4 separate regions of the Homo sapiens genome follow, and all the other regions are linked to region 4. The links come from fine-mapping of genetic effects on gene expression. A gene starts in region 4. Each other region holds a variant in brackets. All regions are shown on one strand. Distances are between the middles of the regions. Region 1 overlaps ZNF503-AS1 (ZNF503 antisense RNA 1). Region 2 overlaps LRMDA (leucine rich melanocyte differentiation associated). Region 3 has its middle 8.5 kb from the start of LRMDA. Region 4 holds the start of ZNF503 (zinc finger protein 503).

Region 1 (2,682 bases), 42 kb before region 4:
TCCTGGTTCCCTAAGCTTTTGCTGGATGTCAGAATTCCAGTGCCTCTCCACTGTGCTTTTCATTGGCAGAACTTTAAATGATTTTATAAAACTGCAAATGTACAAGGTAATTGAGTCTTCTGTTTTATTACCCTGAGCTGCCTGGACCTTGCCCGGCCTCCTCCTCACTCACCGAGCCACCGGAATAAAGTTGGAAGTGTTTGTGCTGGTAATATATAGGACTTAATTAACCTGGCCTTTTATAGCATTTCCAATGGAGGGTTGGAACGAACTTTGAGGCAGCTTGAGAAAGGGAAAGGGGGGCCTGGGGTGAGAGCGTGTATGTACATACAACACTTGATGTTGGTTTTTTCTTTTGTTCTTTTCTCCAGTACTTTAATCAGCATTTAATGACCCAGTCGAAAATTCATTGTTTGGACCCAAGCACTGGTGGGAAAGGCAGGAGGGGAGGCCTGCCTTCCTTCCTCCCTCCCGAGCCCTACAGCAGGCCATGGAGTGGTGAGCGAGTTCGTACAGTGCCAACCACATTCCCAGAAACTTCCAGCAGAGGTTAATCCTGCTCCTCTCAGGTAGGAGACAATGAATGGATTTTAACAAATGGACTCCCTGTGTTAGCTAATGCCAGTCCCTACTCAACCTAGGATGACTCCAATGGCGCATGTCCCCATTCCCGGGCCCTAAGGCTGCGCTAACATGCTATCCTGCCTGCCCCTTCATTCTCCACCCTGCCACATTCCCACTCCTTTCCCCTCCCAACACGAAGCCATGCCTGAGCTGGACACCCTTCCATACCAACCCAGGAAAAAGTGATTCAGCTCCGGTCCACCCTGGGTGCAGCGGTCCTTCTGCCAAGATGCCTTCATATCATACAGCTATTATTTTCGGGAGGATTCCAAGTGAGGGCAGTCAGGGTAAGTGCCTCTCACCAGCTGCCTGCTCAGACCATTGCTCCACATACCCTAGCTCATAAATCCTGCCCCAACACTGCAGAGTGGTTACATCATCCCCAAACCTCATGCAACAATTCGATTTGGAAATAAAAAGGCAGGTGTTAATTGACTCACTCCCTCTGCCCCTTTGTGGTGCCCCTGACCCTCGATAGCTTTTAACCCTGCAGTTAATAAAAGTTTTGGGCCCAGCCCCAGCACAGTTCCTCATTCATTCTTTC[A/G]TAACATCAGCAAATTCTTCCTGAGTGACTGTAATGCACAAGTCATTGGCCAGAGCCTTAGGGAAGAGGGTTAGGTGGCTAAAGATGAGCAAGAAGCATTTTAAGCATTTCATGCCTTAGGAAAGCCTACAGAGGAGGCCCACAAATAACGCAGATTTGGGCAAGAGTCCTGTGGGCCTCCAGAGAAGCCAGAGTTTTAGAAGCATCTCCGGCTGTTGAGTTGACTGCTCTTGAGTTTGCCTGTTCAGCACCCATCCCTCCTACAAGAGCAACCAGATTCTCCTTTGGAGAACCCACATCTTCACTAAATCTATGTGGTTCCAAATGTGGTTGAATGTCTGGGGTCCCCAGGAGTCAGCCCATGAGTAGAGCTAACCATTCAGGGCAGGTTAGTCCCCAGCCACAGTGATCATTTCAGCCATGGGCATTAGACTTGGGCTGGGCCAGTGAAAGCTATTGCTGCAGCTCCTGGGAAGGAGGAGCTCTCTTTTTCCCCTGGGACTGGCCAGAAGTAAGCCTGGAGCTGCTAGTAACCCTCTTGTCTTCACCTGGGAGAGGCTTCAGGAACCTGAGAGTGAAGCCAATCACTTCATTTGCTCCCGAGGGACAGCCTCTGACTTCAGGCCCCTATTGTCTCCTGCCCTGCAATGAGAAGCTCTTGGTTTTTAGGTGTGTTTATTACCCAGGCCCAAGAGACTCTCTGTCTCCCTTCAGCTAGTCTGTGCCCAAGCAGAATATCAAGGAACGCAGAGCTGAGAAATGGAAAGGAAAAGATGGTTAAGGATGTTGGATGGCTGCCAAAGGTTTCTTTTTTTTTTTTTTTTTTTTTTTTGAGACAGAATCTCGCTCTGTCACCCAGGCTGGAGTGCAGTGGCTCGATCTCCGCTCACTGCAAGCTCTGCCTCCTGGATTCACGCCACTCTCCTCCCTCAGCCTCCCTAGTAGCTGGGACTACAGGCGCCCGCCACCACGCCTGGCTAATGTTTTTTTGTATTTTTTTTAGTAGAGATGGGGTTTCGCCGTGTTAGCCAGGATGGTCTCGATCTCTTGACCTCGTGATCCACCCATCTCGGCCTCCCAAAGTGCTGGGATTACAGGCGTGAGCCACCGTGACCGGCCTGGGGGCCCTTGTTTTTCAGGTTTGCACTTGTGCGACTCTGAGAGTGGGTGCCTCCTTACATTTTGTACCCCAGGTGCCTCTCTCCTCTCCCTATTCCTGGCCCTGCTTAGGCTGCTGGAAGTCCACCCCTATCTGTCCCTGAACCCAGCCTGAAGAATTCAGAGTTGATTGCTACTGTCTTTCTTCCCCCACAGGTGGGCTTGGCCCATTCTCTAGACTTTGGAAGGTAATGTTCTATAGAGGCCTGTTCTGAAGCTTTACCAGGTCAAACCGGAGAAGAACCCAACAAGTAACTCATCCCAGCCTAACTATTCTTCAAGGGCAATCAACCTACAGCATCCAAGCACAGAGAAATCAAATCCATGGAGAATCTTCAAATTAGGCTCAGAATCCA
Region 2 (2,682 bases), 36 kb after region 4:
AGAAGTTCTTGCCCTTTCAGCTCAGAAGACTCATTTTGAAGCCAAAACATGATGATAGATGCACCACTGGCATTTGCTGATCAAGAAAACTCATGTCTGCCTGGTATGGTGGCTTGTATCTGCAATTCCAGCTATTTTAGGAGGCTGAGGCGAGGGGATTGTTTGAGTTCAGAGTTTGAGATCAGCCTGAGCAACACAGTGAAACCCCATCTCTTTAAAAAAAAAAAAAAAAAAGAGAGAGAGAAATCTCACACCCACACATGGATTTGTAAGCACTCCATGGCCCCCAAGTTGGAAGTCCTTATTTATGGCATAGGACTTGATCTGGGCTCTATCACTAAGAAGCTGTATTGTGCTGGGCAGGGCTCTGGAGTCTTAGTTTCCTTGTATAAAACATCAGAAGTTTTGACAAACTGGGTGTCTATTAGATTTAGTCCTTGGCCATTCTAAGAGGAAAGAGCCCAGTTTCTGCATCTAAAACTCAACGTCTCTGCTATATATATCACAGAGGTCTTGACTGATAATATGTGCAAGACAGTAGTGCAGGCTGGGGTGAATGGGATGGATTTTCTGGTGAGCGCCATGGACCTGGGGTTCATTGTGAACGTACAATACAGAAGAAGCTGCTGAATTTTTTTTTTTTTTTGAGACAAGTCTGGCTCTGTCGCCCAGGCTGGAGTGCAGTGGTGCAATCTCGGCTCACTGCAAGCTCCGCCTCCAGGGTTCACACCATTCTCCTACCCTAGCCTCCTGAGTAGCTGGGACTACAGGCACTCCCCACCATGCCCGGCTAATATTTTTTGTATTTTTAGTAGAGATGGGGTTTCACCATGTTAGTCAGGATGGTGTCGATCCCCTGACCTCATGATCCTCCCACCTCGGCTTCCCAAAGTGCTGGGACTACAGGCATGAGCCACCGCGCCTGGCCAAGAAGCTGCTGACTGAGCAGAGATCCTGAGGGAAATCGAAGTCCCCAGATAGAATAGGGCCTTATAGCCACAGTCTCTCTTTGGCATATGATTTCTGTCTCAGCTTGGAAGCAGAACTTAATTTATTACACAAGGAACTGTGAAGAAAGATGGACCCCAGGTAGAAAGAGGAGAGATTGCTAGATTGAACTTAGAGTCCTTTATTTTTTAGCCTATATCTTCTTGAGTCAAAATTACTTTATTGGAGTCAGCTATTTTTCTATCCTTTCTCCTTATTTTCTCTCCTCCTAGAATGAAGTTACTGAAGGAGAGTGGATATAGGATATTGCATTGTCAGCAGTTTGTCCTCATTGGATAGGAGAAGGTTGAGAGATGACTGGAGATGTTGAGGGTGTCAGGGTTCAGTGCAGCTTGTATTAGGTTGCACCATGTAAAAGAGCTATTTTGTGGTTCTAAAATGGTTGGATATTGGTAGTTCACATAGTTGAACCTAATATCTGAGGATGTAAGATGGCCACCATAGTCTTGTTTCCCATGAGGAAACACCCTCCTGGGGAGTCTCTCTCTCTCTCATTCTAAGAGATCTTTGTCTATATGTGTGGAAGAATGTGATTTGTAGGGAAACCAGAAGAAGGTTATAGC[C/T]GTGTCTTGGGCTTGAATTTCAAGCTGGGGGTTGAGCATGTTGTATTTTAGGGAAACAGCATGCATTGTGGCCCACTGGTCAACTCGGCCTCATGGGTTTATTTTATGGTTTGAGGATTAGTTGCCAATCTGCCCACAGAGTGCTGTCTGTAAAAATGGGTTCCAAAAACTGGGTGATTAGGGTAGTGAGAAAGTCCACTGACCTTCTCACAGGTTCTGGAATCAGTTCAGATTCAGTTCAGTTCAGCTTTTTAATATTTGGGCACATACAGGTACTTAATAATAAATAATCTGTAATAAATAGAAGAATGCCCAAAGAAACAGCTTTGTGCACAGAGTGGGATTGACTGCCAAAGGGCCTCTGGAGGAGGGACATTCAGGAGCCCCGGACACACATTGTTGCCCTGTTGCCTTCAAATCAGCTTTGTTTGGGTGTGGAGGGCATTTTGTACACAGTGGCAACTGGATGGGATTTGTGGTCTGGGGAGGTTTTCTTTTCCAACCCTATTTGTTCCAGCACCCTGAAGGTTGGATGCTGGTAAGTGCATCTGCTGTGTCTTTTATGAGGTAATGTGCATACCAGGGTACTGGAGGGCAGTGGAGGAGAGGGAGAAGAAGGGGCAGAGGAGCAACTGTTGCAAAAGCCCCTGAGTGAGAGGGCGATTGTTGCGGTTATATCAATGTGCCCTGATATTCAGGTTTCTTTTGGACACCTGAATCTGGCCAATTTTAGTCCAATTTCCATTGTCCTGGGATTAGTCTTCATCATGTTAACTGCACCAGGAAAGGGGAGCTGTTGGTGGAGTCCTTGGAGCCCCCAAAGCTGATTTGATCAGGGAAACAGTCACAAGTGTGGCCTTTTTGTGTGTGAGAAACATGTGTTTCAAGTTGCAGAAGCAATCATTGGATCAGTAATTTCAGGGTTGGGAGCAGCTGGGTGATTTCCATTTGCCACATTGTTTCTGTTCCATTTAATTTCCAGGTGTCCTACATAGGCCAGGACTGCAGAGAAATTCCAGAGCACCTTGGCAGGGACTGTGGACATTTCGCAAAGAGGCTTGATCTGAGCTTTAACCTTCTGAGGTATGTAACCTTCACAAGATGTAGGCCA
Region 3 (2,682 bases), 22 kb after region 4:
AATCCATCAGAAAATTCTGTTGATGCCATCTTCAAAATACATCCAGGCACTGTTCACAGTCCACAGGATTCCTGTGACAGCCTGCTGTCTTGCCTCCTGGCCTCTGTCCCTTCTCCATGATCCATTCCCAGCACAGCAGCCAGAGCAGTCTTTTTTTATTTTTTTTATTTTTTTGAGACAGAGTCTTGCTCTATCGCCCAGGCTGGAGTGCAGAGGCCCGATCTCGGCTCACTGCAACCTCCACCTCCCAGGTTCAAGCAATTCTCCTGCCTCAGCCTCCCAAGTAGCTGGGATTTCAGGCATGCACCACCACACCTGGCTAATTTTTGTACTTTTAGTAGAGACAAGGTTTCATCATGTTAGTGAGGCTGGTCTCGAACTCCTGACCTTGTGATCCGCCTGCCTCGGCCTCTGGAAGTGCTGGGATTACAGGTGTGAGCCACCACGCCCGGCCCAGAGCAATCTTTTTTTTTTTTTTTTTTTTTTTTTTGAGACAGAGTCTCACTCTGTTGCCAGGCTGAAGTGCAGTGGCCCAATTTAGGCTCATTGCAACCTCCGCCTCCTGGGTTCAAGCGATTCTCCTGCCTCAGCCTCCTGAGTAGCTGGGACTACAGATGTGCCCCACCACGCCCAGCTAATTTTTGTAGTTTTGATAGAGACGGGGTTTCACCATGTTGGCCAGGATGGTCTTGATCTCTTGACCTCGTGATCCGCCCGCCTTGGCCTCCCAAAGTGCTGGGATTACAGGCATGAGCCACCACACCCAGCCAGCCAGAGCAGTCTTTACAAAATGTGAGTCAGATTAGGCCCATCCTCTGCTCAGGACCCCCGATTTAGCCAGGAGTGCTCATGCCTGTAATTCCAGCACTTCGGGAGGCCGAGGCGGGCAGATCCCGCAAGCTCAGGAGTTTGAGATCAGCCTGGGCAACATGGCAAAACCTCATCTCTCCAAAAAATTAAAAAAACATTACCCAGGTGTAGTGATGCGCACCTGTAGTCCCAGGTCCTCTGGTTGCTGAGGTGGAAGAATTGCTTGAACCTGGGAGGTTGAGGCTGCAGTGAGCTGGGATCATTCCACTGCACTCCAGCCTGGGTGCCAGAGCAAGACCCTGTCTCAAAAACAAAAACAAAACAAACAAAAAACCCTCTCCATCTCAGGTGGAGTACAAACTCAAGTCCTAACCTCAGCCTATTTGGCCCTACATGATCTGTCCCCTTCACACCTGCCCTGTGACTT[C/T]ACTTACCATTACTCTCCCCCATCACTAACTCCAGCCCGACGTGCACTTGCTGCCTCAGGGCCTTTGCACTCGCTGTTCCTATTGCTAGGCACATTTTCCCCCTAGAAGTTCACTTGGCTCTCCCCTACTTCCTGCAGATCTCAGCTTCATCTCAGTTTCTCAGTGGGGCCTTCCCTCGTCACCCTGTGTACCCGGCACTCCTGTCCCCCTTCCCTGCTGCGTTGTTCTCCACAGGACTCATCACACTCTGTATTTTCCTTCTCCCCTTCCCCTTTCCTTTCCTTTCTTTTTTTCTTGTGTTGCTCTGTTACCCAGGCTGGAGTGCTGGGATCACAGCTCACTGCATCCTCATCCTCCTGGGTTCAACTGATCCTCCTACGTCAGCCTCCTGTGTAGCTTGGACTACAGGCGCGCACCACCATGCCCAGCTAATTTTTTGGTAGCTTTGTAGAGACAGGCAAAACCACATTTACCAGGCTGGTCTTGAACTCCCGGGCTCAAACGATCCACCCACCTTGGCCTCCCAAAGTGCTGGGATTACAGGCGTGTGCCACCACACCTGACCTCCTTGTTTATTTTCTGTTCTTCTACTGAAAATGAGCTCCACAAGGGTAGAAACTTTCTTTTTCTTTTTTTTATAGCTATGTCTCCAGAGTTTAGATTCCTGTCAGGCAGACAGTAGGCACTCAACTAGTATTTTTTGAACAAATGAACTGAATGAATAAATTTCTAGCACCTCAGTATAAGCTATAAATCCTCTCAGGTTTAAGGAAGTACTGGTACCTATAATGTCTGCATTCTCTACTGGCCACTAGTAGCTATTTCAGTGAGACGGGAGACCAAGACATGCCTAGGAATGGGGTTCAGGGTTCAGACCATAGCTGTGAGATGGCACACATGGATCCAAGGTTGGCATGTGTCTCACGTGGCTATGTGCTTACATGTATGTTTGTGGGCTTTTTTTTTTTTTTTTGAGACAAAATCTTGCTCTGTCACTTAGGCTGGAGTGCAGTGGTATGATCTCAGCTCACTGCAGTCTCCGCCTCCCTGGTTCAAACGATTCTCCTGCCTCAGACTCCCAAGTAGCTGGGATTATAGGCACCTGCCACCACACCTGCCTAATTTTTGTAATTTTAGTGGAGATGGTGTTTCACCATGTTGGCCATGGTGATCTAACTCCTGACCTTAAGTGATCCACCTGCCTTGGCCTCCCAAAGTGTTGGGATTACAGGTGTGAGCCAATGTGCCCAGCCTGTTTGTGTGCTTTTGTGTGTCCACAAGATTCTGTGCCAGTGCAGACATGCATAAGGGCCAGCACTCCTTCTGCGTTTTTCCCTCTTCAAGAAAACCACAGATGCTTTATAGAGCTGTGGAACCTCTGTGTGTCCATGAATGACTCTGCTTCCAGCTGCTGCATCCCAAAGCCTTAGTCCACCTGTGATTT
Region 4 (2,682 bases):
GCCCGCGCCGCCCCCGTTGGAGGCAACCGAGGAGAGTTTGGAGGAGGGCGAGGGGTCGGGCTTCCCGATCTGCGAACATGTTTGCGCCAACAGCGCCAGCGGGCTCTTCTTGGCATCGAGCTGCGGGGTCAGACGATGGGGGGGGAGCGTCACACAGAGAAAGAAGTGGAAACCCTTTAGAATCCTGGCTTCTGGGGTTCAAATGCCTCTCCGCAACAGCCCACGAAGATCCTCCCAGCCCCAAGGCGCAATTCTAGGCGGCACCCCCTCTTCAACACCCACTCACAAACATTCTCGCCGTTGGGAAAGGCAGCAGATTGCTCCCCCCGCCCAACCACCACCCCCAGCAGCATCTTTCCTGCCCTCTCTGAGCGCTAACTAGATTTTTAAAGAGCAAAATGTTTTGGTTTTCGGTTCCTAGACCCAGAACTGTACCCCCTCCCCACAAACACTCCTTAATTCTTCAGAGTAAGGGCTCGGGCGGCTGGCGCCTCAGAGGCTGTGTGCACACACTGGCTTCTGCGGATACGAAGGACGGCGACTTTGGAACCGTATTTCAGACCTCCGCCTGCCTTCGGTGCCGAGTGAAGGGGCCTGGGTCGGGGTAGGGGCTTTCATATCGAAAGGAGAAACAAGTATTGGCAGCCTTGCTCCCTAGCATGCACGCCCCATTCCACTTCCTCCCCCTTTTCCGCCCTAGTTTTGAGGTACGGAAGCAGTAGCCTCTTCCCCCATTCGGGAGCTGAATCACTCCGACCCCCCCACCTCCGCCCAGATCCCGAGAAAAAGAAAGCCCTAGGGTGGCAGCCAGGGTAGTGGTCCCAGTGCGATCCAGAGAGAGGGTCCTTACCTCGATGGGGCTGACCGGCGTGGAAGGCAGGGGCTGCAGGTACTCGGGGTGCAAAATGTGGCCAGTTCGTGCCGTCAGCATCTTCAGCACCTTGATTGGCAGGCGGTTGGCCTGGCGCAGGGGGTCAGAGGGGGGCACGGCGTGCACAAAAGGCTTGGTGCTGCCGGCCGGGGACGAGCCTGGGCCGGGGCCGGAGCTATTTCCAGAGAGCGCGCTGGTCCAGGCAGGGTCTGCACCGCCGCCTCCGCCTCCGCCGCCGCCGCCGCCGCTGTGCTTACTGCTTCTTAGGGCAGAAAGCGAGGGCGCTGTGCTCATGACCCACCCGCGCGCATGGGAGCAGCGGGGGGGAGGGCTCCGGGAGGCGCGGGGCGGGCTCGGGGCTGCGCGCTCGCCCCGGGAGCAGGAGCAGCGGGAGGAGGAGGAGCTGGCGCGGCGGCCACGGGCGCCCAGCGCGCCTTCTCGGCGCCTGGAGCCAGACGCGAGTAATCCTGGGTGGCCCGCAGCGGAGCCGTGGCCGGGCTAGAGGAGCCGGCTGGACTGCGGGAGTGCCGGGCGGCTCGCGGTGTCCGCCTCGGGCTGCTCCCCTGCGCTGCGTTCTCGCGGCCCCGCGCCGGCGCTGCGCTCTGCGATGCGAGCCGCTGCGTGTCCAGCCGGGGCTCTGGCGAGGAAACTCACTTCAAAAGCAGCTGCACCAAGGGGGAGATTAAAGCCTTTGCCGCCTTCCAATCAAATGGGAGCCCGAGGTGATTGGAGGGTCAAGGGGATGTGACGCGTCCCGCGCCGCCGCCGCCGCCGCTGCCAGGACTCTCAGTGCCGGTTTTAATGGGCAGCTCCCTCTTCGCCGCCCCCCTGTGTGTCCCCTCCCTCGATTTCGCTGGGAGGACGAGATGGACATTTATTCTACGTTTGCCATCCGCCGCCTCCCTCTTTTTTCCTCCTCGTCGTTCTTCCTTTCCCCAGCTCGAAAATAAACTGAAACCTTCTTTTGAAGGGGGGTGCGCGTGAGGAACAGACTGCGGGGGGTGTCCAGAAGGAGCACCGGTGGGAGTGTGGACACCGGCCGGACTGTCAACTCCAGGGGCGAAGGGAACCTGCACACCCAGTGTTTTTTCCTTCGCAGTAATCGAGATCCCGCGCGGCGCAGCGCAGCCACCAGGGTAAGAAGGCAAGGTGGGGAGCCGGAGCTGGAAGAAGCCCGCCCGCCCGCTCTAATTTCCTCAGATTCCGCGGCGGAGAAACCAGAAGCTAGATGGGCAGTCGCAGCGGCGGCGGCTCAACACCGCGAGGAGCGCTGGGCTCTCCGCCCTTCCCGGCCACGTGACGCCCGGGGACGCGTAGATTGGGGCAGCAGCGGGGGTCACATGTTTCCTCTGTTTCACCCTCAGTCTGTCCCCCAACCCCCCATTCTTACTCTCCCACCCTGTTTTCCTCCCTCCCCCCCTTCTTTGGGCATCTCCACCCCTCCATCAATTGTCAATGTTCCTCGACCGCAATCAATCAGTTATTTGTCAGCTCTTGTCAATCCTCCCGTGATTTATGTCAGCTTTTGTTGCTGATTACAAGGCGGGTGCGACTTGAAGGGAAAAAGAGAGAGGGAGAGAGAGACGGAGAGGAAGGAGGAGATTGAGAGGGAACTGGAGGAGGGGAAAAGAGGAGCGGCCTCCTGGGATGGGGGTGGGGTGGGGGCTCTAAGAAAAAGAATGAAAGAGGCGCACGGTGTCAGGAAAATGAATAGCGAGAGTAAAGTGCGCAGGTGCGCCCAGGGCGCCGAGAGGGGCGCGCAGGCCTGGAGTGTGCGCCTGCCCTCTCGGTGTCGGAGAGACGCCCTTCCA

The links.
Region 1: its variant is fine-mapped to the expression of ZNF503 in whole blood (TOPMed, PIP above 0.99). The same link has a PIP of 0.9 or more in blood mononuclear cells.
Region 2: its variant is fine-mapped to the expression of ZNF503 in whole blood (INTERVAL, PIP above 0.99). The same link has a PIP of 0.9 or more in T cells, blood mononuclear cells and monocytes.
Region 3: its variant is fine-mapped to the expression of ZNF503 in blood mononuclear cells (TOPMed, PIP 0.95).

What each region holds. Positions count from the first base shown.
Region 1 is chr10:75,358,139-75,360,820 of GRCh38, forward strand. It overlaps ZNF503-AS1 (ZNF503 antisense RNA 1), which reads left to right. Exons shown (of 4, transcript NR_038226.1): 3 at 372-569; 4 at 2,483-2,682. It also overlaps a transcript of ZNF503 not described here. Among named protein-coding and RNA genes, the nearest start is that of ZNF503-AS2, 42 kb to the right of the region's middle. The variant A/G (reference allele first, on the strand shown) is at 1,169.
Region 2 is chr10:75,435,841-75,438,522 of GRCh38, forward strand. LRMDA (leucine rich melanocyte differentiation associated) reads left to right here. Exons shown (of 7, transcript NM_001305581.2): 2 at 2,554-2,654. Among named protein-coding and RNA genes, the nearest start is that of LRMDA, 5.6 kb to the left of the region's middle. The variant C/T (reference allele first, on the strand shown) is at 1,572.
Region 3 is chr10:75,421,828-75,424,509 of GRCh38, forward strand. No RefSeq gene overlaps it. Among named protein-coding and RNA genes, the nearest start is that of LRMDA, 8.5 kb to the right of the region's middle. The variant C/T (reference allele first, on the strand shown) is at 1,238.
Region 4 is chr10:75,400,255-75,402,936 of GRCh38, forward strand. It overlaps ZNF503 (zinc finger protein 503), which reads right to left and starts at 1,510. Exons shown (of 2, transcript NM_032772.6): 1 at 851-1,510; 2 at 1-120. The coding sequence starts at 1,165. It overlaps ZNF503-AS2 (ZNF503 antisense RNA 2), which reads left to right and starts at 1,274. Exons shown (of 2, transcript NR_024421.1): 1 at 1,274-2,007. RefSeq lists an enhancer at 512-1,012.